Homo sapiens: one gene and its partners. The protein of the gene in region 2 purifies or fractionates together with the protein of the main gene of each other region. This does not show direct contact. Each region holds a gene or a part of one and is shown on either strand. Other genes may lie near its edges. The genes, in order: CELSR1, MSTN, MEGF8, GAS6, JAG2, OXSR1 and POGLUT2.

Region 1 (2,974 bases), on a different chromosome or scaffold from region 2:
GGTCCCGGAATGCCAGGGGTGAAGGGGGCGGGGTGGAGCTGGGGTCCTGGCCCCAGACCTCTCCCTGTCGCCCCTCCCTCCCTCCAAACTCACAAGGGAGAAGCCAGGTCTTCAGAATGCCCCTTCCAAAAGTCACTGTAGAGATGGCCGGTTTCTAACGTGGATTCCTTGCGCTCTTCTGAAAGACCAGCAACACAGAGGCCCACAGGCTGGTCCTGGTCCCCTCTCCTGCCTCCCAAGGGCAGCCTCATCCAACATGAGCTTGCCCTCCCTGGAGCCCCCAGACGCCCCCTCTACCCTGATGGGGTGATCCTGCCCCCCCGTGTGACAACCTTGGGCCCCACCAAGCCGCTACCCTCACTGACCCTTCACCTGCTTGCTGGCTTCTTCCCACGCGCAGAGGCAGTAATGAAACTTCAATTTGAACCATCAGTAATGAAACTTCAATTTGAACCATCAGGAAACCGTGAGGCAAGCCCGTCACCCCACACAGGCTGCGGCATCACCCTCAGACCTTGGAGCCCAAGGGGCCACTGCCCTTGAAGTGGAGTGGGCCCAGAGTGTGGCGGTCCCCATGGTGGCAGCCCCCCGACTGATCATCCAGACACAAAGGTCTTGGTTCTCCCAGGAGCTCAGGGCCTGTCAGACCTGGTGACAAGTGCCAAAGGCCACAGGCATGAGGGAGGCGTGGACCACTGGGCCAGCACCGCTGAGTCCTAAGACTGCAGTCAAAGCCAGAACTGAGAGGGGACCCCAGACTGGGCCCAGAGGCTGGCCAGAGTTCAGGAACGCCGGGCACAGACCAAAGACCGCGGTCCAGCCCCGCCCAGGCGGGCATCTCATGGCAGTGCGGACCCGTGGCTGGCAGCCCGGGCAGTCCTTTGCAAAGGCACCCCTTGTCTTAAAATCACTTCGCTATGTGGGAAAGGTGGAGATACTTTTATATATTTGTATGGGACTCTGAGGAGGTGCAACCTGTATATATATTGCATTCGTGCTGACTTTGTTATCCCGAGAGATCCATGCAATGATCTCTTGCTGTCTTCTCTGTCAAGATTGCACAGTTGTACTTGAATCTGGCATGTGTTGACGAAACTGGTGCCCCAGCAGATCAAAGGTGGGAAATACGTCAGCAGTGGGGCTAAAACCAAGCGGCTAGAAGCCCTACAGCTGCCTTCGGCCAGGAAGTGAGGATGGTGTGGGCCCTCCCCGCCGGCCCCCTGGGTCCCCAGTGTTCGCTGTGTGTGCGTTTGTCCTCTGCTGCCATCTGCCCCGGCTGTGTGAATTCAAGACAGGGCAGTGCAGCACTAGGCAGGTGTGAGGAGCCCTGCTGAGGTCACTGTGGGGCACGGTTGCCACACGGCTGTCATTTTTCACCTGGTCATTCTGTGACCACCACCCCCTCCCCTCACCGCCTCCCAGGTGGCCCGGGAGCTGCAGGTGGGGATGGCTTTGTCCTTTGCTCCTGCTCCCCGTGGGACCTGGGACCTTAAAGCGTTGCAGGTTCCTGATTTGGACAGAGGTGTGGGGCCTTCCAGGCCGTTACATACCTCCTGCCAATTCTCTAACTCTCTGAGACTGCGAGGATCTCCAGGCAGGGTTCTCCCCTCTGGAGTCTGACCAATTACTTCATTTTGCTTCAAATGGCCAATTGTGCAGAGGGACAAAGCCACAGCCACACTCTTCAACGGTTACCAAACTGTTTTTGGAAATTCACACCAAGGTCGGGCCCACTGCAGGCAGCTGGCACAGCGTGGCCCGAGGGGCTGTGGAACGGGTCCCGGAACTGTCAGACATGTTTGATTTTAGCGTTTCCTTTGTTCTTCAAATCAGGTGCCCAAATAAGTGATCAGCACAGCTGCTTCCAAATAGGAGAAACCATAAAATAGGATGAAAATCAAGTAAAATGCAAAGATGTCCACACTGTTTTAAACTTGACCCTGATGAAAATGTGAGCACTGTTAGCAGATGCCTATGGGAGAGGAAAAGCGTATCTGAAAATGGTCCAGGACAGGAGGATGAAATGAGATCCCAGAGTCCTCACACCTGAATGAATTATACATGTGCCTTACCAGGTGAGTGGTCTTTCGAAGATAAAAAACTCTAGTCCCTTTAAACGTTTGCCCCTGGCGTTTCCTAAGTACGAAAAGGTTTTTAAGTCTTCGAACAGTCTCCTTTCATGACTTTAACAGGATTCTGCCCCCTGAGGTGTAATTTTTTTGTTCTATTTTTTTCCACGTACTCCACAGCCAACATCACGAGGTGTAATTTTTAATTTGATCAGAACTGTTACCAAAAAACAACTGTCAGTTTTATTGAGATGGGAAAAATGTAAACCTATTTTTATTACTTAAGACTTTATGGGAGAGATTAGACACTGGAGGTTTTTAACAGAACGTGTATTTATTAATGTTCAAAACACTGGAATTACAAATGAGAAGAGTCTACAATAAATTAAGATTTTTGAATTTGTACTTCTGCGGTGCTGGTTTTTCTCCACAAACACCCCCGCCCCTCCCCATGCCCAGGGTGGCCGTGGAAGGGACGGTTTACGGACGTGCAGCTGAGCTGTCCGTGTCCCATGCTCCCTCAGCCAGTGGAACGTGCCGGAACTTTTTGTCCATTCCCTAGTAGGCCTGCCACAGCCTAGATGGGCAGTTTTTGTCTTTCACCAAATTTGAGGACTTTTTTTTTTTGCCATTATTTCTTCAGTTTTCTTTTCTTGCACTGATCTTTCTCCTCTCCTTCTGTGACTCCAGTGACTCAGACGTTAGACCTCTTGATGTTTTCCCACTGGTCCCTGAGGCTCTGTTCACCTTTCTTCATTCTTTTTTCTGTCTGTCCTTCAGATTTGGCTATTTCTGGTGCTCCGTCTTCAAGTTCACTGATTTTTTTTCCTCTGTCGTCTTAATTCTGCTACTGAACTCACCCAGTGAATTTATTTCAAATACTGTAATTAAGTTTTAAAATTTCC
Region 2 (4,062 bases):
TCTTAGGAATCCTTAGCTTCCCAAAAAGGAGTAGGAAAAAGAAATCTCCTTTGGCCTAGAAATATCTTCTGTTTCTTGCTGGCTATGTTTGCTTAGCTCTTTAATAGTTCATTTGACTAGATCTTGTGGCTCCCAAAGCTAAGGTTGAACGTTTGATCCCTACAGAGGCCACTTAAATTTAGAGAACAAAAAGCTCTATTCTCTGCTCCCAGACTTTACCCCAAATCCCTGCCAGGTGTCTGCCCTCTGGTCAAAATGAGAAATTGGCAAAGGGGTGCAAACATATCGCAGTATTGGGAAACAACAAAAGGTCACCCCTTTATCATGATGCTCTTTCTCTTTTATGTGCTCATAATATTCTGATATAATTTATAGAGAATAGATACTGCACTTTTTACTCTCTGGATATTTACTGCTGGAAATCTGAGGCAAACTGTAATAATCTCTGCCATGCCAGTTATAAAATTCATTATCTTAGTCTATGTTCAGAGATTTTTCTACTAGCTGGCATTACCCTCTTGGTAATAAACAATGAAAAACACATCTTCTGAGTTATGTTAATCTGCATCTTTAGAATAGGAAATAATAGCACTCAGTCAAAAGTTCAGTATAATTTTCATATTAATAAAAGACATGAAACTATGTAAAAATAATTCCATGCACAATATGTTATAATAACAATGACTTCCAATATTTACTAAGAATTTAGTCAGAAAACAAGTTTCTCAAATTATAGATGAAAATTCTCAACTAGTATCATAATCTTAACTTTTAATTCAGGTCTTCCTAATTTTTATTTTCCTAATTACTTGGCACTAAAAATAATTTAATACAACAAATAAAAATATTTTCTACTTCAAATACTTGCCTAAACAATATAAAATCATTTTAGTTTTTGAGGAAGTAATATTTCATATTTTAAATATGTAGTATAAATTAAAATTGACTTATTTAAATTACAATAAGAGTTGTGTGAGGATTAGTAAGATTTAAGTACAGTTTATATTATTGCCAACATAGACTTTTGTTTTTCAAATGTCACAAATATCTTTTATTATTTGTAGATTTATTTCTTTTATGAAGTAGTCAAATGAATCAGCTCACCCTTGACTGTAACAAAATACTGCTTGGTGACTTGGGACAGACAGGGTTTTAACCTCTGACAGCGAGATTCATTGTGGAGCAAGAGCCAATCATAGATCCTGACGACACTTGTCTCATCTAAGTTGGAATATAAAAAGCCACTTGGAATACAGTATAAAAGATTCACTGGTGTGGCAAGTTGTCTCTCAGACTGTACATGCATTAAAATTTTGCTTGGCATTACTCAAAAGCAAAAGAAAAGTAAAAGGAAGAAACAAGAACAAGAAAAAAGATTATATTGATTTTAAAATCATGCAAAAACTGCAACTCTGTGTTTATATTTACCTGTTTATGCTGATTGTTGCTGGTCCAGTGGATCTAAATGAGAACAGTGAGCAAAAAGAAAATGTGGAAAAAGAGGGGCTGTGTAATGCATGTACTTGGAGACAAAACACTAAATCTTCAAGAATAGAAGCCATTAAGATACAAATCCTCAGTAAACTTCGTCTGGAAACAGCTCCTAACATCAGCAAAGATGTTATAAGACAACTTTTACCCAAAGCTCCTCCACTCCGGGAACTGATTGATCAGTATGATGTCCAGAGGGATGACAGCAGCGATGGCTCTTTGGAAGATGACGATTATCACGCTACAACGGAAACAATCATTACCATGCCTACAGAGTGTAAGTAGTCCTATTAGTGTATATCAACAGTTCTGCTGACTGTTGTTCTAGTGTTTATGAGAAACAGATCTATTTTCAGGCTCTTTTAAACAAGCTGTTGGCCTGTATGTAAGTAGAAAGGAAAAGAGTTTCTCTTTTTCAAGATTGCATGAGAATATATTAATGAGACAAAAATCTGCTGCATTATTTGTTTTCTTATAGAGACAAAAAACTAAAAAATAAAGTACTTGCATAGCATTAATTTAATAAGGCAAATATAGATAGCATGCTTATGCTTTCACAATAATACCACCAAGGCAAGGACTGGGAGATACTACAAGCAGTGTTTAAAACTTACATTAGATTTTAGAATTGTATTTAGTTGTGTAAAATAAGTTTTTTTCACTAATAACAGAAAAAAAAAAAGAAACTTGCTGGATGTTTAAGCTTACTTGAGCACTGCTGAAAACCTCAAGTGATTTCTGTTATTTGAAACTCTCTCAGTAATTTTTTTGTTCTTCACAGTTAAAAATTTAATTTTGAGAGCTATTACACTGAAGAATATGCAAAAATTAAATATCTTAATGTGTTAGTAAGAACAATAATGAAGTAAACATAGCATAATAATCATCATGAACTAAATATTAGAAAATGCCTAAGAAATAAACATTTTAATTGGGTAGGTTATGGCTCACAAAGTCCTCCTTGTACCTTGACCATAGTACTATTATTGAGAGTACCCAGTTTGTGTACTTCCAAGCAGGCACAGTGCTTAATAACCTTCTAAAATATTTTATTCTTCCTGAGAGGGAGGGCTTTTACCTGTAGTATCTACACTGCTTCTGACAGATAACATATTTCATACAATTCCTTTTGCAGTCAGCTCAAAAGAATACTTTCTCCAGGAAAGAGAAACAGGCACCTTGACAGAGAAGGCATGGCAAGAAAAATTTTGTGTTACCTGTTATCTTGCTTTAATACAATGCTTTATATACTTTAAACAAGACTCCAAACAGTTTTAAAATATTATTTCCCTTATTAAGTAATCAGGTTACAATGCAGCAAAGAATTTCCATTTAAGACTCTGCTATCAAATAGGTCTGGAGCAGATTTACCTTTTATAGACAATTTTGGAAAACCAAAATAAAAGAAATTGTTAGTGCTTGTGCTTACATGACAGCCTGGCCCTAAAGACAATACTTTCGAACTTTTCAGATAGCCTGAATATAACATCAAAATTTTTGTGTTAATTATCTGCTTAGTTTTGCTCCTTTAAAAGGTTATTCCAAAGCCAAAATGTAACAGATGTACTGTGTTTTCTACTAATTCCTGAGGCTCAGTAAGTTGCTCAGTGTGTCTTGTCCCCAGGTAATTCAGGCCTGGGGGAAGGGTTCCTTCTTCCAGACTGATTGGTACAGCTGCTCAGTAAGTGTAACTACTCAGATTCCCAAAGAATTCTAAGTGGTTGTTCCTCCACAGTGTCTCTTGTTCTCTCTAATCATCATCATTTTAAAATTTCATTCAGCGTTCATTACTTCATAGAACCTTCCTTTGTCCATAGTTCTCTGGAAGGGGAATAGATTCCTGATGAACAGCTGAAAATACATACGTCTGAAAAATTCTGAAAAGCTAGGGTAATTATTTTCTTTGACATTTTTTTGAGTTATAAAGTTCCACACGGTATTTCATTTTAAAAGACTGCATAGGCATACATTATCTTAATTTAAAAAAATGCTCAACTATTAATATGGAGGGGTTTTGTTAATGGGAAATAATTTCAGCAACTTTTCTTTTCTTATTCATTTATAGCTGATTTTCTAATGCAAGTGGATGGAAAACCCAAATGTTGCTTCTTTAAATTTAGCTCTAAAATACAATACAATAAAGTAGTAAAGGCCCAACTATGGATATATTTGAGACCCGTCGAGACTCCTACAACAGTGTTTGTGCAAATCCTGAGACTCATCAAACCTATGAAAGACGGTACAAGGTATACTGGAATCCGATCTCTGAAACTTGACATGAACCCAGGCACTGGTATTTGGCAGAGCATTGATGTGAAGACAGTGTTGCAAAATTGGCTCAAACAACCTGAATCCAACTTAGGCATTGAAATAAAAGCTTTAGATGAGAATGGTCATGATCTTGCTGTAACCTTCCCAGGACCAGGAGAAGATGGGCTGGTAAGTGATAACTGAAAATAACATTATAATAACCTTATGTTTTTATTCATAATATGAACAAACAATAGTGGAAAATAGCTACAAATTCCCTAAGCTCATAAGCTAGACAAAGGTATCTTACCCCAACGGTAG
Region 3 (3,500 bases), on a different chromosome or scaffold from region 2:
CTGTCACCCAGGCTGCAGCCAATGTATTTTTAAGATGGTTAATTTTATGTTATGTGACTTTCACCTCAATTTTTTTAAATCCTCAAAAAATAACTGAGAGACACAGACATGAAGTAGTCTCTGTCTACTGAATCTGAAAAGACAGATTAAGAGAAAAAGGGAATTAAATCCCAGCACTTTGGGAGGCTGAGGCAGGTGGACTGCTTGGGCCCAGGAGTTCAAGACCAGCGTGGGCAACATAGCAAAACCCTGTCTCTACAAAAAAAAAAAAAAAAAAAAAATTATCCAGGCGTGGTGGCATGCCTGTAGTCCCAGCTTCTTGGGAGGCTGAGGAGGGAGGATTGCTTGCTTGAGCCTTGGAGGCAGAGGCTACAGTGAGCCAAGATAGCATCACTGCACTCCAGCCTAGGCAACACAGTGAGACCCTGTTGCTAATAAAAATAGAAAAAGAGACAAAGGGTCAGAGAGAGAAGCAAAAAGAAAAGGAGACAGTCCCAGAAACACACTCACAACAGTCACTCACAACATTGAAATAAAAAGGCAAGTGACAGGCATGCTTCTACCTATGAACAGCAAAGACTGGTAGGAAACACCCCCATGTCTAATAGTGGTTGTCTCTAGAGAGAGGGATTATGGGTGTTTTTTTTTCTTTCCTATTTTACAAATTATATATAGTGAACATTGTTACTTTTACAGAGTAAAAAATAAACTTCTCTAAGAAAAAAAAAAGGAAGGAGGGCATGTCCTGGTGTTCAGATAATCCAGAAGAGCGGGAGCTCTGCCAGTGGGTCTGCAGGGGCCCAGTGACTCCTAAGGAGTGGGAGTCCCAGGATGGGGATGGGGCTCCTCCTGGATGTCCCTCAGCCTCCTGGGAGCCACAATGGGGACTTACGGGTGAGGTCGGGCAGAAGCCAGGCATTGCAGTTGACCTGGTAGAGCAGAACGTCGCTGCTGAACTCGTCAGGGTCCGAGCGCCCCCCAAGAACCACCATGGTGTCCCCTAACAGGGCTGAGGCGTGGAAAAGCCGGGGGCGGGGCTGTTGGGGAGACGGGGGGTGGGGGGACAGGACAGCCTGTCAGAGCTGTCCTCTGCTCCCTCTTAGCCCTCCAGCCACCCCTGTACTTCCCTACCTATCCCCCCCTACCAGCCCACCCAATCCTAACCCTCTTCAAATCTCACCTCCTTCAGGTGAGGTGAGATTTCCTCCAGGAAACCTCCTGTACCAGCAAGAGCAGCCCACAGAGCCATCTTCTTCCTGACTTCCCGGAACCCCCATGACCCAGGCTGCTCCCCAGGAACTTGGCCCAGACCCCGAGATGAGCCACGCACATTCCTCATACGATCTCGCTAGTGACAGTGGGGGCGTCCTGGGGTTGAGGCTCCTCGAGTCTCTTGCTTCTAGCCCCCTGCCTCCAAGACGGGCTTGGAAACGTGTGGACTGAAACCACCAGCCTCTCTAACCAGTGCAGACAGGGCTCCCTGCCCTCCCACACACATTCTCCTTGGCCTTGAAGGCAGAAAGAGCGGGGAGCCTCAGTCCTGGTTTATACGAGTGGAAAAACCCAGGACGGGGAAGGGGCCTGCCAGGGCCGCACCAAGACTCAGGGGAGAGCTGGGCAGAACTCATGCCTCTGACCTCCTGGCCTCGGGTTCTCTCCTCCAAATCAGGGATGGAAGCGGGGGAGATGTGGGGGTGTCGCTTAGTTAGGGAACATAGAAAGGAGGGGAAGCAGGAATCTGGGATGGAGCCAGTCCCTGGGGCACTGGGAAAGAGGACCCCTCCCTCCTGCCCCATACATCCTTGGGTCTGAGCCTCTTTTCCTGACCTTTGCCCCCTGAGAAGGGGCCAGCAGACTCCAGGTGCGGTCAGGACAGTGCAGGGAGTAGAGCTCGGGGGATGGGGCCGCCAGCTCCACATGGAATCGGAACCCCCCAAACACGTAGAGGGAGTCGGTGGCCTCGTGGTAGACAGCAGAGTGACCATAGAGACCTGGTGAGGGGCAGGGTGACAGGCTGGGGGAGGGGCTGACAACAGCACTGACCCCGCCGACCTCCCGGTCCCCTGTTCGGTGACCACTCCCTTCCCCGGCCCTGAGACTGGAGGCCTGGGAGCCCCTCTCCACCCGTCCCTCTCAGTTGGGTTCAAATGGACAATCATTAGAGACTCTGGGAAAGAGAAGGGAGTCCTCAACTGGCAGTAAGTTCTGCCAGGCTCTCGGGAGGGAGACAGGGCGTCCAGAATGTCTAGGGGACAGTGATCAAAGAAAGGAGGTGTGATCGAGGAAGAACCCTTGAGAAGCAGGGAGCTCAGACCCTGGGGGCAGGGGACGGTGGCCACATGTGGCCGGGAGTGGGCAGTTAGTTGTGGAGTCTGGGAAGGACAGTCAGAAAATCTGAACATTCAAGAGGGTGCCCTGAGAATCTGCATGGGGATGGGAAAGAGAGGGAGACAGGTGGCCACAGAGCACAGCAGTGGATGGAGAGCCCACAGGAAGCCCAGATGCCCGGGAGGTCCACGGGGGCTGTCCCCTCCCGGTCCCCAGCCCCACCTGTGGGGGGTGTCCCACTCTGGGCTCCTGACACCCAGGTGCCGGTTGCCAGCTGGTACTCCAGCAGCTGCTGGTTGAAGCCATTTTCCGGGGAGTAACCGCCCACCAGGAGCAGAGACAGGCCTCGGCGGGCAGTAAGGGTGTGACCAGCAACGGCTGGCAGCTCCACGGTCTGGGGGGCCTGAGGGATGGAGGGGCAAGGTCACCGATGGGGCTAGAGGTCAGGGGTCACCTTGTGGGTAGAAGCGAGCCTCAGCCCCCCACAGTCCTCCCTGAAGTACTAAGGAGGGAATGACCCCCCCAGGGCCAGTCGGACCAGCCTGGGTCCTGGCAGAGGCACAGTGGGCCCCTTGGCATTTCCACCTGCTCAAGCCTGGTGTGGCTTTGGGAAGCCCTTGCTCCCCTGGCCTCTCTCTGCTGCTGAGTGAAGCTGTGTCCCAGCCCAGGACTGGCTCAGGACAACAGTGTGACCCAGGATGGCCGAGGAAATTCAAGTTTGGGGCTTCTGTTTCCTCTGGGGATGGAGCTGGCAGGAGCTACCACAGCTGTCTCTGTCAGGGCCCAGTGTGAGGGCTGGGGAGTGGGCTGGGGAGAGATGCTCACCTTCTCCTGCCGCCATTGCAGGGTGGTGAGGTTGAGGACCCAGAAATCACGGGTGACGCCTCCAGCGGTAAGTCCCCCCAGCAGATACATGGCACCACGGCCAGCGGGCACATATGCGGCTGCATGGAAGGAGCGGGGCGATGGGCCTGGGCCCCCGTCCTCGGCTCCCGCCAGCATCTGTGTCCACCGCCGCTCACTCACTGAGTACCTGGGGCCAGGGTGCAAAAAAGCAGCCTCATTACAGTCATCCCAGCATCCTTCAAGGTGACCCTGCCTGACAGATGTCCCCGCATCCCCTGGGGTGACCTTCCTATGACAGTCCTCTTGCCATTCCCTGGAGTAGCACC
Region 4 (3,500 bases), on a different chromosome or scaffold from region 2:
CCCCTCCCCACCCCCTCCCTCACCTCCTCCCCCACCCCTCCCTCACCTTCTCCTCTTCCTCCCTGCTTCTCCTCCTCCTCCCCCTCCGTCGTCCTCCCCCTCCGTCCTCCTCCCCCTCCGTCCTCCTCCTTCCCTTCCCCATTCTCCTCCCCCTCCCCCTCCTCCTCCCCCTCCTCCTCCTCCCCCTCCTCCCCCTCCTCTCCATCCTCTCCCTACCCCCTCCTCCTCCCCTCCTCCCCTCCCCCTCCTCTTCTCCCCCTCCCCTTCTCCCCCTCCCCCTTCTCCCCCTCCCCCTTCTCCCCCTCCTCCTCCTCCTCTTCCTCCTTCCCCTCCCCCCTTCCTCCTCCCACTCCTACTCCCCCTTCTCCTCCCCCACCTTTCTCCGTGCCCCTGCCTTTGCTCTCCTCTGGTGACTAAAGGGCTCTTCATTTCAGGGTTGCCCCTCCTACCCCAGGGTGCTTGGCCGTAAACAGCATCTGTCCCACATTAGATGCTCAAGTCTTAGGATTGTGGTTTAACCCGGTAGTGAAAATTGATTGAAACCAGTAAATGCTTCTCTTTGGGGTTGGGGTTTTAGTTTCAAATGCCCCCGGGGGGTTACTTTTTACGGCCCCGTGTCCTGTAGCACCGTCATTTAAATGGAACAGCACAGCGTGCACCGCCGCCCCCCACCCCTCCACCAAGCAGGGCCCTTCCCAGCTCTCCACCTGCTGGGCTGAAGTCAGCCTTCCCAGCCGGGCCTTGATCAGAAGCGTGCACCAACACCCCGGGAGCTGCCCGGTCAGGGGAGGAGGGCAGGGAAATGGGGCCAGGGCGCGCTGGCCCCACAGAGTCTGGATGCGACCTCTGGGTGGTGCCCTGGCCAGTCCCTGCAGCCGCCTGCCCCAGCCCCGTCTGAGATGCCGCTGTGCTGCGGTTGGCCGGTTTTTTTTTGCTTGCAGACATAGACGAGTGCGCAGACTCGGAGGCCTGCGGGGAGGCGCGCTGCAAGAACCTGCCCGGCTCCTACTCCTGCCTCTGTGACGAGGGCTTTGCGTACAGCTCCCAGGAGAAGGCTTGCCGAGGTACCCACGCCACGCGGTCACCCTCGCTTTCTCTGACGCCCAAGTCTAGACACGGGTGCCAGTCACTGCCCGAGCCGGTTGCTAACAACCGGGTGCTTCTGGTGAAAGAAAGTCTCTTTCTCCCTGTTTCTATCAGCCTGGTAATGGCCTGTGCTACCACCATGCCCGCACACACGTGAGCACACACAGGCACCCATGCCCCTTGTGCACATGAACGAACCGCACACATGCATATACACCGCATGTACACACGTGTGTACCCTTCTCCACCTGCATAGACGGGGCCTCTCCCCAAAGGGACGGGGAGCAGCAAGCCTCCCTCTACTGTTCTCTCTTTCCAGCCGCCATGGGGAGGGCCCTGTTGGCCGTAGAGCCTCTAAGAGGGGCCGTGCCCCCAGTGATGGGAACAGTGGGGCTGAGTAGGCAGACAGAGAGGGTGGGGAAGCCCAGGCTGCCTGCACTGACCTCCATTTCCCACCACAGCTGTCGGCCCCTCTGTGCTCCGGGGGACACCTCACTGCACAGCCCAGACCCTGTGCTTCCCAGACCTGCCTTCCACACCGGCCCGGCAGCGGGGGTGGGTCTGGCTCGTTGGGAGCACCCTCCTGGGACACCTGCGACATTTTTATTCCCTCAAGAAAGAGCCCGGGCAGGAGCAGGCCGAGGGTGCAACCTAGCTTTCCAGTGGGGGGGGACGCGACCCCCAAGCCGCCCCCGTTAGAATCTGCATGTAATTCCTTGAGCGCACCTTGCGTGTGGTTTGAGCAATCGCGGTGTGATCCCACGGCGGGACAGCGTAGAGGCCTCCCCGGCTCACCGCCGCTTCCCTCTGGCTGGCAGATGTGGACGAGTGTCTGCAGGGCCGCTGTGAGCAGGTCTGCGTGAACTCCCCAGGGAGCTACACCTGCCACTGTGACGGGCGTGGGGGCCTCAAGCTGTCCCAGGACATGGACACCTGTGAGGTAGGCGGCCCCTGGCCCCGCGGGCCCTTCACGGTGGTTCCGGGGGCCCTCGCCGGTGGGGGCTTTCGGGAGAAACACTTCCGTGAAGACCTGGCCTTTGCTAAGGTGTTGGGGATCTCCAGGGCCATGTGGAGGTTTGGGATGAGAAACGCTTCTGTTCCCTGGAAGATGTTTGGTTGTATTTATAGAGTCTCTATGGCAACTCCCAGCTCACAGTGGATCAGCCTGGTGTGGACCCCAGTGTGACACTCACGGGGGCACGGTCCCCACTCTGCCGCGTGCCAGGGAGCCAACGTGACCGACCTGTCACACCGGTGCCTGTCACACCGACCTGTCACACCGGGGCCTGTCACACCGGTGCCTGTCACAGCATGACCTACCTGTCACACCGGGGCCTGTCACACTGGTGCCTGTCACACCGACCTGTCACACCGGGGCCTATCACAGCATGACCTACCTGTCACACTGGTGCCTGTCACACCGACCTGTCACACCGGGGCCTATCACAGCATGACCTACCTGTCACACCGGGGCCTGTCACACTGGTGTCTGTCACACCGACCTGTCACACCGGGGCCTGTCACAGCATGACCTACCTGTCACACCGGGGCCTGTCACACTGGTGCCTGTCACACCGACCTGTCACACCACTGCCTGTCACACTGACTTGTCACACCAGTGTCTCACACCGACCTGTCACAACAGTACCTGTCACACTGACCTGTCACACCGGTGCCTGTCACACCACTGCCTGTCACACTGACTTGTCACACCAGTGTCTCACACCGACCTGTCACAACAGTACCTGTCACACCGACCTGTCACACCGGTGCCTGTCACACCACTGCCTGTCACACTGACTTGTCACCGGTGTCTGTCACACCGACCTGTCACACTGGTGCCTGTCACACTGGTGCCTGTCACACCGACCTGTCACACCGGTGCCTGTCACACCGACCTGTCACACTGACCTGTCACACCGGTAGGAATGCAGTACCCACATGTGGACGTTTCTGGGCAGGGCGGCTCTTGTCTTTCCTCTTCAGCCTGGGCCTGTGCCTGGGGGTTGATGAGAGTGAGCATTTATTTAAAAAGCAAAACCACAGGTGGAAAGAGTCACCAGGACAGCTTCTCGGAGTCGCAGACCTGGGATGCAGCCGTGGGGCTCTTGGGTCTGGGCTGCGACGTTCAGGGCTTCCAGCCAGCCCTCGCCTTGAGGTTCTTTGCCTCGCTGCCTCATGTACTCATGCAGAGGGTGTCGGACCCCTGCGAGATGTCCAGCTCACCCTGGCTGCCCACGGTGGGCAGGGCAGGCCTGGCTCAGCCCCAGCCCCTCCATCTTCCAGGGGTGTCAGCTCACACCGGCTTTGGTTCTGTCCCCCTTCGGGCAGCGTGGAGAAACCACAGCCCAGAACAGGGAACTTTCCAGGACAGCCATCTTCAAGGCATCCATATCTATTTCATAATAGTGTAT
Region 5 (3,500 bases), on a different chromosome or scaffold from region 2:
CCCAGAGATGGGGCATGGGCAGAGGACACGGTAACCCTGCCCATGGGGAGGGGGTGGGCGGCGAGCGGCCGGCAAGTGACACCAGCAGGCGAGGGGCGGCAGAGCAGACCAGTGGTGGGAGCTGAGGCCTGCAGGACCAGGGACAGAGGAAGGGGCTGCTGGCAGGTTTGTAGCTGGGCAAGGTGGGTGGAAGGGCTGTGGTAGCTGTTGAGTGGGGAAGCACCAGACGGGAGGCTGTGAGGGGGAGGCCGCTGTGGGGCATGTGGGGGTGGTGGGGGAGGGGCCAGCGGGATGGGGAGGGGGTCAGTGGAAGGGGGAGAGGCGCACGGGTCCTGCAGACATCCTGGGGTGGAGCCCAGGGGTTTGTGGATGGATTTGATCAAGCAGGAAGGGTGTGGAGTCAGGGAGAACCCCAAGCTGCTGAGTAGCAGAGCCATGGTGGCAGGAGGAATGCCACAGAGGAGCAGGCGGGGCCGGGGTTAGCTGGATGTGGAGAGGCGATGCCTGCCCTGTCCCTGGAGACACCCAGAAAGCTCGTGGGAGAGGCCTGGCCTGCGCCACGCGGGGCCTGTGGGGGGTGGCATTCAGGCGGTGACGGGAAAGTGGGGAAGGCAGAGAGGAGGGAGGCCAAGGAGCAAGTCCCGGCTGCCACAGGTCAGGGCGGATGGATGAGGAGTCAGCAAGGGCCTCCACAAGGGAGTGTCCGGGGTCTTACAGCCAAGTCCAGATGGTGGAGGCCTCTGGACCCAGACCAGAGTGTGGGGGATCCAGCCAGGGGGGCTGGCAGCTTTGCCCTAGAGTGGAGCAGAGAAGTCAGCAGGGCAACCAGAGGGGCTGGGGCCCAGGGTCTGGGGTGGGCACGGGCTTCGAGCCGTGGCGCTCACTGTGCGTGAGCAAGCTGGGGAGCCCGAGAGAGGGGCGCGAGCGGGTGGAGAGACAGCAGGTGGAGGTGAGCACCGCCCTCCAGCCAGCCTTGGATTGCAGGGGTCCCAGGACCTCCCTCTGTGGAGTGGGTTTGCCTCCATGGGACGAGGACACTGGGGCACAGAGAGCCTACTGATTTCCCCAGGGTCACACAGCGTGGCGTTTTGGAGAGGAGTCGGGGAGTTTGGGAACCAGCTGAGTTGGGAGCCAAGGTGGGGAGGTGGGTGACCCTTCCACAGGCCCCACGGTTGAGTGGCCTGGAGGGTACAGTGAGGAGCTTTCCCGGCCAGTCCCAGAGCGGGGAGGCAAGCAGGGCTGGGGCCGCCCACCCGGTCACTTGCACACACAGGGATTCCCGGCAGGTTGAGCGAGTCCCAAGTCAGCTCAGAAAGTGCAACAAGGTGGACCTGGTCTGGGCAGATGTAGATGTAGATCTACGGGAGTCGGCCCCACTCACCCTCGCCTGGCCCAGTGTGCATCACACAACCTGGATGGCAGTGCCACCCTCCCTGGATGGCTGCTGGCTGGCAGCTTGAATGTCACACCAAGGCTGGAGGAAGGCAGCAGAGAAGTTGGCCATCCCTGCCCTTTACCCGCAGGAAGATGAGCCGGAGTCTGGGGGGCCTGGTGGGTGGGGGCAGTAGGTGAGCTCCGCCTGCCCCTCTTGCTGGCCCTGTCGGGGAGGCCCAGCTGTTGCTGACAGCCTCGGCTCAGGTTCCAGTGCAGGACGCCCCCCCACCGGATGCTGCGGAGATGGCCATGCCTTCCTGCCGCCGCCTCTCCAGGGCCCTGGGGCTGCTGGCTGGGGAAACCAGGAGGTGGGGGCCTGGTGTGGGCTGCCCTGCCCAGGGTCGAGAGCACGCCCTTGGGACCCACGAGGTCTGGGCTCTGAGCCCGGCTGTGGCCGCTCTCTGGCCGATGACCCAAGGTGTGTCACAGCCCCGCCCTGAGCCTGGGTCTCTGTGTCTGTGGAGGAGGGATTCTAGGCGGGATGTGAGGCCACCCACGCGGACCACTGTGCATGCTGGGCTGGATACTGGAGACACGTTCTTCCCGGCCTCAGTTTCCCCATTTGTGGCAGCTGAACTGGGCTGATAGGCCTTCGGTGCTGGCTGTGTGGCTTGAGGGCGGCTCAGGAAGGGCCGTGGTTCTTTCCTTTTACAAAAATAAAGTGTGGCGGGTGCCGGTGTGGAAGTGACGTGGCCTGGATGACATTCCCGTCCTGCAGGACCGGAGAGTTCTAGGAAGGGCCCCCCGGGAGTCCCGGCAGGGCCTGGATGGCAGCCTGCTGAGCCTTGGGGTCGTTGCAGGCTCTCTCCCCTGACGGAGGCACCCTCAAGTCAGGCCATGTTCTACCCTGGCCACCTGCCCTCTCCTGGGGGACTCCCAAGACAGGACGTTGGCCGATAGCCTGGGGCAGGGCGAGTCCTGGTGGTTGTGTCCTGGGGGGTGCAGCTGGGGGTGCAGCTGGAGCTCCTGCAGAATCAGGAACTACCCTGGGCAGGGCTGGCCCAGGCCAGCCTGTGGGCCTCAGTAGCCCCATCTGTGAGATGGGTACCTTGTGGGACTTTACTGGGAGCGAGCGAAATGACTGCCTTTGAGGTGGGGGCGAGGGCACGTGCTGTGCCCAGGGCCACATGGCCGAGGCAGAGCCAGGAGTGCTCCCCTGCTGCCCGCTGGCCTACCCAGCCCCTGGTGCCTCCCGGCCCTGGCAGCACCTTGTGAGTCCGAGCCGGCATTCTCATCCCCGGGGTCCCGGCAGGGCCTTCCTTTCCTGGTGCCTGCTCTCGGGGCCCAGCTCACGGGTGAATCCCAAAATAGCTCAGGGAGGAGTGACGGGACAGCTGGGGCTGACCGTCGGCAGCCAGCGGCCGGGAATGCCCGTGACAGTGGGGCTGGCCGGCAGGGCTGCAACCCCTGCCTGGCTGGGGCTGCTCCAGTTCAAAGGCCTGAGGCCGCCCGCCGGCCCTGGGTGTGGCGTGGGTGACTGTGCCTGGCTCCCCTGCCACCCTTTCAGGCACCACAGCTCACTGGGTCTTGCGCCCCTCCTCCTTCCCCCAGGTGCAGCTACGGCTGGCAAGGGAGGTTCTGCGATGAGTGTGTCCCCTACCCCGGCTGCGTGCATGGCAGTTGTGTGGAGCCCTGGCAGTGCAACTGTGAGACCAACTGGGGCGGCCTGCTCTGTGACAAAGGTAGTGGTAGGGGGCGGCAGGCCTAATGCTCTGCCATCGAAGTGTGGGTTGTGGGGGAGCGGGGGGCCGGCTTTTCCCCTGAGCATCCCACCCCTGCCCCCAGACCTGAACTACTGTGGCAGCCACCACCCCTGCACCAACGGAGGCACGTGCATCAACGCCGAGCCTGACCAGTACCGCTGCACCTGCCCTGACGGCTACTCGGGCAGGAACTGTGAGAAGGGTACGTGGGGGGCTGGCCACCCAAATTCTGGCCAGGCAGGGACTGGTTCCCTGGGGAGCCGGTCAGGCCCCATCCCTCTGGCGTCCTGTGTGGTGGGCCCCTGACCCCCAGCTTGGGAACCTGTGGGCTTGGGGAGGAGTGCTTGTGGAAAGCTGGGGGCC
Region 6 (3,500 bases), on a different chromosome or scaffold from region 2:
CCTACTGCATGCCTAGGCTATTTAGTGTAGCCTGTTGCTCTGACTACTGTCAGATACACAGTATATTGTTGGCCAAAGCATTAAGAGGCTCATGACTGTGACTTTAACCCAGAGTTCTCCAGCTAGTCAGACTATCATTCAAGAATGAGCATGAAATTATTTTGCACACAGAAATTGAGTTTTCCAGTCACGTTCTGTCACTTAAAGAACCCATAAGTTGTACTTTAGAAAGAAGGAAATGAAGTCAGAAGAAAGGAATGAATAATAAGAAGCAATGTTGAGCAATCACATTGTTGAGCATATTGAGAAGCAATTGTTGAGCATATGAAAAAATAAGAGTGATAATGTAGGATTTCAGTTTGCATAGCACTTTCACATTTATTCAGCTTTTTAATCTTTATAATAATCATCTGAGGTGCTGGTTCTTAAACTTGAATGCCTATTGGAATTACCTGGGGAGTTTTAAACATTACTAAAGCCAATTAAAGATTCTGCTTTAATTGGTTTGAGGTACAGCCTGGTCATTGGTTTTGTTTGTTCGTTTGTTTGTTTTTGAGACAGTCTTGCTTTGTCGCCCAGGCTGGAGTACAGTGGCACAATCTTGGCTCACTGCAACCTCCGCCTCATGGGTTCAAGCAATTCTCCTGCCTCAGCCTCCCAAGTAGCTGGGACTACAGGCGCACGCCACCATGCCCTGCTAATTTTTGTGGTTTTTTTAGCAGAGACTGGGTGTCACCATATTGGCCAGGCTGGTCTTGAACTCCTGATATCGTGATCCACCCACTTTGGCCTCCCAAAGTTCTGGGATTACAAGCATGAGCCATGGTGCCCTCTGGTCATTGGGATTTTTACATTCTTCCCAGATAGTTCAATGCACAGCAGTGTTTAAGAACTTAGGGGCTTGGCCAAGTAATACTGAACCTTAGAGAGGTTGTGATTTGCTCAGGATCAGGTAGGTGTGTGGCAAAATCAGGTCCAGTCTCTTAAATGTTAAATTCTTTATTCTGAATGATACTCTTTTAAAAGCTTGTAAAATTGACAGTCGTGTCTTTACTTAAAAGGAAATAAGACCATGAAGAAATGAGTTAAACACTGAGTTTTGTTAAATTTGGGGAATATACTTTTAGAATTTTCATTTTTAAAGGGAGATTGTGAAATCTGTTTTTAGGGATCTGTGGTTACCTAAATTGAAGGCTGGCAGGCTACCATGTGGCAAGAAGTGGAGGTCTTGATTTGGTCCATTTCCTCTTTGTGTGTTTAAATATATTTTTATGCCTTGCTAAAAATGTTAGATAGATATTTTCTAGCTTACTTATTGGGAAATAATATTAAATATTAAATTAATATTATTAAATAGCAAATATATTAGACTCTATTAAGAAATCATGCTTCCAGAAAAAACATTTCACTAATGATTTTTTCAAAGAATCTACAATAATTATCAGAATATTTGTTTTGAGTTTTTTATTTTATTCAATGTCCTGTATCAAGTTTATTTTACTTTTGCTTTTTAGCAGTTTAAGGAAAGTAGAGTATACTGAGTTTTTATTTTGCTGTTGAAAAAAATTTTTTCTCATTTTTGATGATGGAATCTGACATTACACTTGAATTAATTATAAAAACTTTTCTTCCCTCCCTTCCTGGTTTTAGACCAACAGCAGCAGAACTATTAAGGCACAAATTTTTCCAGAAAGCAAAGGTAGGAAATTCCAGCTTTTGATTATGTGTGTTCATAGGATGCTCCTCAATTACTCAGATTATGTTCAGTGCTTAGAAGTTGGATGATTATGTTTGGAAAAATGATGGTAGATAAAATAATTGCAGAAAGCACTATGTATACAGTCTTTGATAATTAAGATAATTGCTTCAGAATTTAGTAAATCCGTTTTTAAATATTAGGTTAAACTGATCATAGGAACAATGATTATTAAATTTTGCCATTATAAATATAATTTGTGAAAAATACCGAACTCTGGTTTTAAGGTTTACTACTGAATTTGTAAACATCTCATTTCCCAAATATATCAGATAGTAGGATGTTACTGTAGTTGGAAATGTAGGACCATGATCTCAAAGAACATACAGTACAGCAAACTCTTCATAGACAGTGGTTCATACAGTGTACTACATCTTAATTTTCTGCCTCAATTTATGAAACTGTGGTAGTAACATACTAAAGGAGCTTCAGAGTGAAAGAATGAAAGTTTTTCTCACACTTCATTACAGAACAGTTACTATATCACATTTTGATTATGGTGAACTTTTTTGTGGGTTTTTTTTGGTACCTTAAAAACTTGTAAGAACAAAATACTTACTTTTCCTCTCCAGAATAAAGAATTTCTTCAAGAAAAAACATTGCAGAGAGCACCAACCATTTCTGAAAGAGCAAAAAAGGTAAATCAGAATTTAACTCAGTTTTCCTGAAGAATTTACTTTATTTTTGCATTTTGAAAACATGTTAAGTAATACATTGTTAATAGTATATGAGAATTACTGGTTTTCTGTCGATCCTTTCTAAAGCATTCTTTGATACATTCATTCAGCAAATATCTTTGGTCTACCATATGCCTTGGTATTACTCTGCTATCTTTTAGGATGAAAAGGGATGCTAGACAGTAATTGGTAAATTAATTCTAAACTCTGTTTGATAACTGTTTCCAGCTACCAGAGTGAGTTGTGATTTTACATGACATTTATAGCTTTGGGTATAAGTCACAGTACCCTCTTTGGAACTCCAAATTTTCTACTGCCTTTACAGAAAGACTGAAAGAACTTTATTACGCATATGTAATTTCTAAGAAGTTTGGTCATGATGTGAGCATACAGAATGCTTTAATATCTCAGTTTGGGCAGAATATATTAATCTTCCTGTCCATGATACTTTTATGAACCTCTGTGAGAGCAGGGAGAAGAAAATCCTCCCTTTTCCTCACTCTTACTTCTCTGCTCAAGCAGACTTATCCAATGTGAAGGAAAGGAGGCAGTTTGGGCTTCTGCTGATGATAGACTTGAAGAAGGTAAAGGTCTTACACCTTGTATAATATAGTGGTAGGCCTGTCCAAGAAGTTAGAAGCATTATGTCTAGCAGTGGCTTATTCTCTTCCGTAGATCTCACTGCTTGGGAATTTTGATACATTCCAAGAATTTAACACAATGAAGAACCAGAAATGTATATTAAATACTTGGAAATGATATTCTTAATAAGCACTGGTAAAACAGTTAACTTGTCTCTATTTTAGAGATATATCTTTTTCAGTGGCTATAATGCATCGTTACATATCAGAATCACTTGGGGACTTAAAAAAAAAAAGAAAGAAACATGGACAATGTCATCCCAAACCAATTAAAGTCATGACTCTAGTGGATGAGACCTGGACAATTATTCTCATGGATAGCTACTAGGTTAAAAACTCACTTGGCTCATTCCTTCACTTTATGTCAAGTCTACTCAATTGGCCTTTCCTCAGAATAATATTCTCTGATTACTAAAACAGTACCCT
Region 7 (2,598 bases), on a different chromosome or scaffold from region 2:
GTTTCCCAATATCATGGGTCCTTTTGAAATGTATTGTACCTGGAGAGCATCCAGGATGTTCACGTAATAGACTTTGGCCTGTAAATGGGAAGCTGCCTGCCCATAGATGGCACGGCAGTTCCCCTAGGCTGAACACAGCGGGCACTGCATCTTACATTAACTCTCCACTCTGCATGTGAAACAAAAAGCTAGGCTGGGTGCGGTGGCTCGTGCCTGTAATCCCAGCACTTTGGAAGGCTGAGGCAGGCAGATCACCTGAGGTCAGGAGTTCAAGACCAGCCTGGCTAACATGGTCAAACCCCATCTCTACTAAAAATACAAAAATAAGCTGGCGTGGTGATGGGTGCCTGTAATCCCAGCTACTGGGGAGGCTGAGGCAGGAGAATCACTTGAACCTGGGAGGCGGAGGTTGCAGTGAGCCGAGACCACACCATTGCACTCCAGCCTGGGCAACAAGAGCAAAACTCCGTCTCAAACAACAACAACAAACAACAACAACAACAACAAAAAGCTAAACTGTGGCCTTGATTACACTTTCTCTTTCAAGTAGCGTTGCTCTGAGCCACAAGCATTGCCTCCGCTAGCAATGTGAAAATTGTAAGATGGCCAGTCTGGCAGAAGTCACTAACAGGCTCCAGGTTAAAATGAGGGATTGATTCAGAAGTAGATGCAGCCATAAATACAGAAATAAAGAGGGATGGAATGCAATAAACTTTAAGCTAATTGTCTCCTGAAATTTGTGAAGGCAGCTGGCTAAGCTTCATCTTGCGTTTACAAAGTCATCAGTTTGCTTGGTGTACAACCTTGTCTCTCCAGGAGAGGCTTAGTTCTAGAAGGTCCAATATGACTTTTCAAACTTTTAAGTCTTAGAAACCTCCCTCTGATTTAAACAAACATACTCTGTTAAATGTTCTGTTTTACCATGAGACTACCCCCAAAGATATTATTTCCCACAGTTGCCCCAATGTATACATACTCTGAAGAGCAGTTTGCAGATGCCTGCATGGGAAAAATGGATTCTATTACAGGATTTTGTCGTTGTTCTTCCTGTAGGCCAAAAAGATAGCAAAAGCAGGACAAGAATTTGCAAGAAATAATCTCATGGGCGATGACATATTCTGTTATTATTTCAAACTTTTCCAGGTCAGTATTTTCCAAGAAAATCATCACGTAACTTATAAGTAGACATGTTAAGAACAAATAATATTTTACTTAACAATTTCTAAACATATGTTACTATAGGGAGATATATATACTTCTGTGGATGAAAATCAGAGACAAATATTAAGTAATCATAAAAAAATAGTTGAAAACCAAAGATTAGCTAATGGAAAATGTTACAATATTAAGCGAAAACTATTAATATTAGAACTATGTGATGTCTGACTAAGAAATTGGCCTCTGATCCTACAAAGTTACAGTGCATGGATTTGTATGTTCTCTTTGTGTTACATTGCTGCTGCCTTACCATTTCTTTGTCTAAACAGTGCCAGGTGTGTTTGGGCCTCTTGTCTTGACTCTGTATGAGCCATGACTTCCCTTGGAAATTATTTCCATGGACCTAAGCATTTAGAGATTGTAATCAAGCATATCCGACGATTTAAAGGACTCTTTTAAAAATGTGGTAGTAGGCCGGGTGCGGTGGCTCACACCTGTAATCCCAGCACTTTGGGAGGCTGAGGCAGACAGATCACCTGAGGTGAGGAGTTTGATACCAGCCTGGCCAACATGGTGAAACCCCGTCTCTACTAAAAATACAAAAATTAGCCGGGTGTGGTGGTGCACACCTATAATCCCAGCTATTCGGGAGGCTGAGGCAGGAGAATCACTTGAACCCGGGAGGTGGAAGTTACAGTGAGCCGAGATCGTACCCCTGCACTCCAGCCTGGGTGACAAGAGTGAGATTCTGTCTCAAAAAAATAAACAAACAAAAAAAAAAAAACAAAATCAGGTAGTAAACAAGTTCTTGGCTAATAACAGTACTAGATCTAGAGTAAGAGTTTTATCTCACAGTTGCAGATACTGAGCCCCATATCTGAGGCTCTGCTACAGATCAAAGTTGGTGTATTTCTGGCCTGTACTGGCTCCTCCCGATTTTGTAACCTTCCCTTGATAGAGGGAAGCAGAGGACAAACCGTGTAAAATGAATAAACTGGGGGGATTTACCATGTGAATTTCTAAGGATCCATGGGGCAGTGTTCATTCATTTAGCATAGGTACTTAGCACAGTGCTTCACTCAGAGTAAGCACATGATAAATGAAGATGATGATGGAGGCTTGTGCAAGCCATGATAAGGAAAGCAGAATAGTCTCTGTCTTCACATTCTCAGTCTAGGGAAGATTGTGTGCAAAATTATTTTTACTGTGAGGCAGAAGACGGTTAAAAAAAAAAGTCATGGAAATTTAGGATAGCATAAAGAGGTGTCTGTTAGGAATAGGCAGCCAGTGTTCAAAGGATGGCCTCCTCTCAGATGCTCTACTGTTGATGTTCAGAACTGGTATATATGACGGACTATGCAGATCACAGTTTGACACACATGAGTTAAATGAATCATAGTCTTCATATATTCTAGCCTCTCTCATTGGGTGGATATAAAG

Evidence for each region.
Region 1: the proteins of MSTN (region 2) and CELSR1 purify together in Homo sapiens (affinity purification with mass spectrometry; one large-scale study listed by BioGRID and IntAct). This does not show direct contact.
Region 3: the proteins of MSTN (region 2) and MEGF8 purify together in Homo sapiens (affinity purification with mass spectrometry; one large-scale study listed by BioGRID and IntAct). This does not show direct contact.
Region 4: the proteins of MSTN (region 2) and GAS6 purify together in Homo sapiens (affinity purification with mass spectrometry; one large-scale study listed by BioGRID and IntAct). This does not show direct contact.
Region 5: the proteins of MSTN (region 2) and JAG2 purify together in Homo sapiens (affinity purification with mass spectrometry; one large-scale study listed by BioGRID and IntAct). This does not show direct contact.
Region 6: the proteins of MSTN (region 2) and OXSR1 purify together in Homo sapiens (affinity purification with mass spectrometry; one large-scale study listed by BioGRID and IntAct). This does not show direct contact.
Region 7: the proteins of MSTN (region 2) and POGLUT2 purify together in Homo sapiens (affinity purification with mass spectrometry; one large-scale study listed by BioGRID and IntAct). This does not show direct contact.

The regions. Positions count from the first base shown.
Region 1 is NC_000022.11:46,360,674-46,363,647, reverse strand, and holds the end of CELSR1 (cadherin EGF LAG seven-pass G-type receptor 1 isoform 1 precursor), read left to right. Parts: exon of another isoform or gene 1-400; coding exon 401-425; 3' UTR 426-460; coding exon of another isoform or gene 461-470; 3' UTR 471-2,474; downstream 2,475-2,974. UniProt on the Homo sapiens protein: Receptor that may have an important role in cell/cell signaling during nervous system formation.
Region 2 is NC_000002.12:190,059,930-190,063,991, reverse strand, and holds the start of MSTN (growth/differentiation factor 8 preproprotein), read left to right. Parts: upstream 1-1,262; 5' UTR 1,263-1,395; coding exon 1,396-1,768; intron 1,769-3,556; coding exon 3,557-3,930; intron 3,931-4,062. UniProt on the Homo sapiens protein: Acts specifically as a negative regulator of skeletal muscle growth.
Region 3 is NC_000019.10:42,356,635-42,360,134, reverse strand, and holds part of MEGF8 (multiple epidermal growth factor-like domains protein 8 isoform 1 precursor), read right to left. Parts: intron 3,362-3,500; coding exon 3,154-3,361; intron 2,732-3,153; coding exon 2,551-2,731; intron 1,992-2,550; coding exon 1,828-1,991; intron 1,349-1,827; coding exon 1,181-1,348; intron 1,038-1,180; coding exon 893-1,037; intron 1-892. UniProt on the Homo sapiens protein: Acts as a negative regulator of hedgehog signaling.
Region 4 is NC_000013.11:113,833,077-113,836,576, reverse strand, and holds part of GAS6 (growth arrest-specific protein 6 precursor), read left to right. Parts: intron 1-941; coding exon 942-1,064; intron 1,065-1,812; exon of another isoform or gene 1,813-1,893; intron 1,894-1,904; coding exon 1,905-2,026; intron 2,027-2,997; exon of another isoform or gene 2,998-3,085; intron 3,086-3,500. UniProt on the Homo sapiens protein: Ligand for tyrosine-protein kinase receptors AXL, TYRO3 and MER whose signaling is implicated in cell growth and survival, cell adhesion and cell migration.
Region 5 is NC_000014.9:105,151,777-105,155,276, reverse strand, and holds part of JAG2 (protein jagged-2 isoform a precursor), read left to right. Parts: intron 1-2,985; coding exon 2,986-3,116; intron 3,117-3,219; coding exon 3,220-3,339; intron 3,340-3,500. UniProt on the Homo sapiens protein: Putative Notch ligand involved in the mediation of Notch signaling. Involved in limb development.
Region 6 is NC_000003.12:38,228,037-38,231,536, forward strand, and holds part of OXSR1 (serine/threonine-protein kinase OSR1), read left to right. Parts: intron 1-1,650; coding exon 1,651-1,699; intron 1,700-2,328; coding exon 2,329-2,394; intron 2,395-3,500. UniProt on the Homo sapiens protein: Effector serine/threonine-protein kinase component of the WNK-SPAK/OSR1 kinase cascade, which is involved in various processes, such as ion transport, response to hypertonic stress and blood pressure.
Region 7 is NC_000013.11:102,786,379-102,788,976, reverse strand, and holds part of POGLUT2 (protein O-glucosyltransferase 2 isoform 1 precursor), read left to right. Parts: intron 1-1,053; coding exon 1,054-1,143; intron 1,144-2,598. UniProt on the Homo sapiens protein: Protein glucosyltransferase that catalyzes the transfer of glucose from UDP-glucose to a serine residue within the consensus sequence peptide C-X-N-T-X-G-S-F-X-C. Can also catalyze the transfer of xylose from UDP-xylose but less efficiently.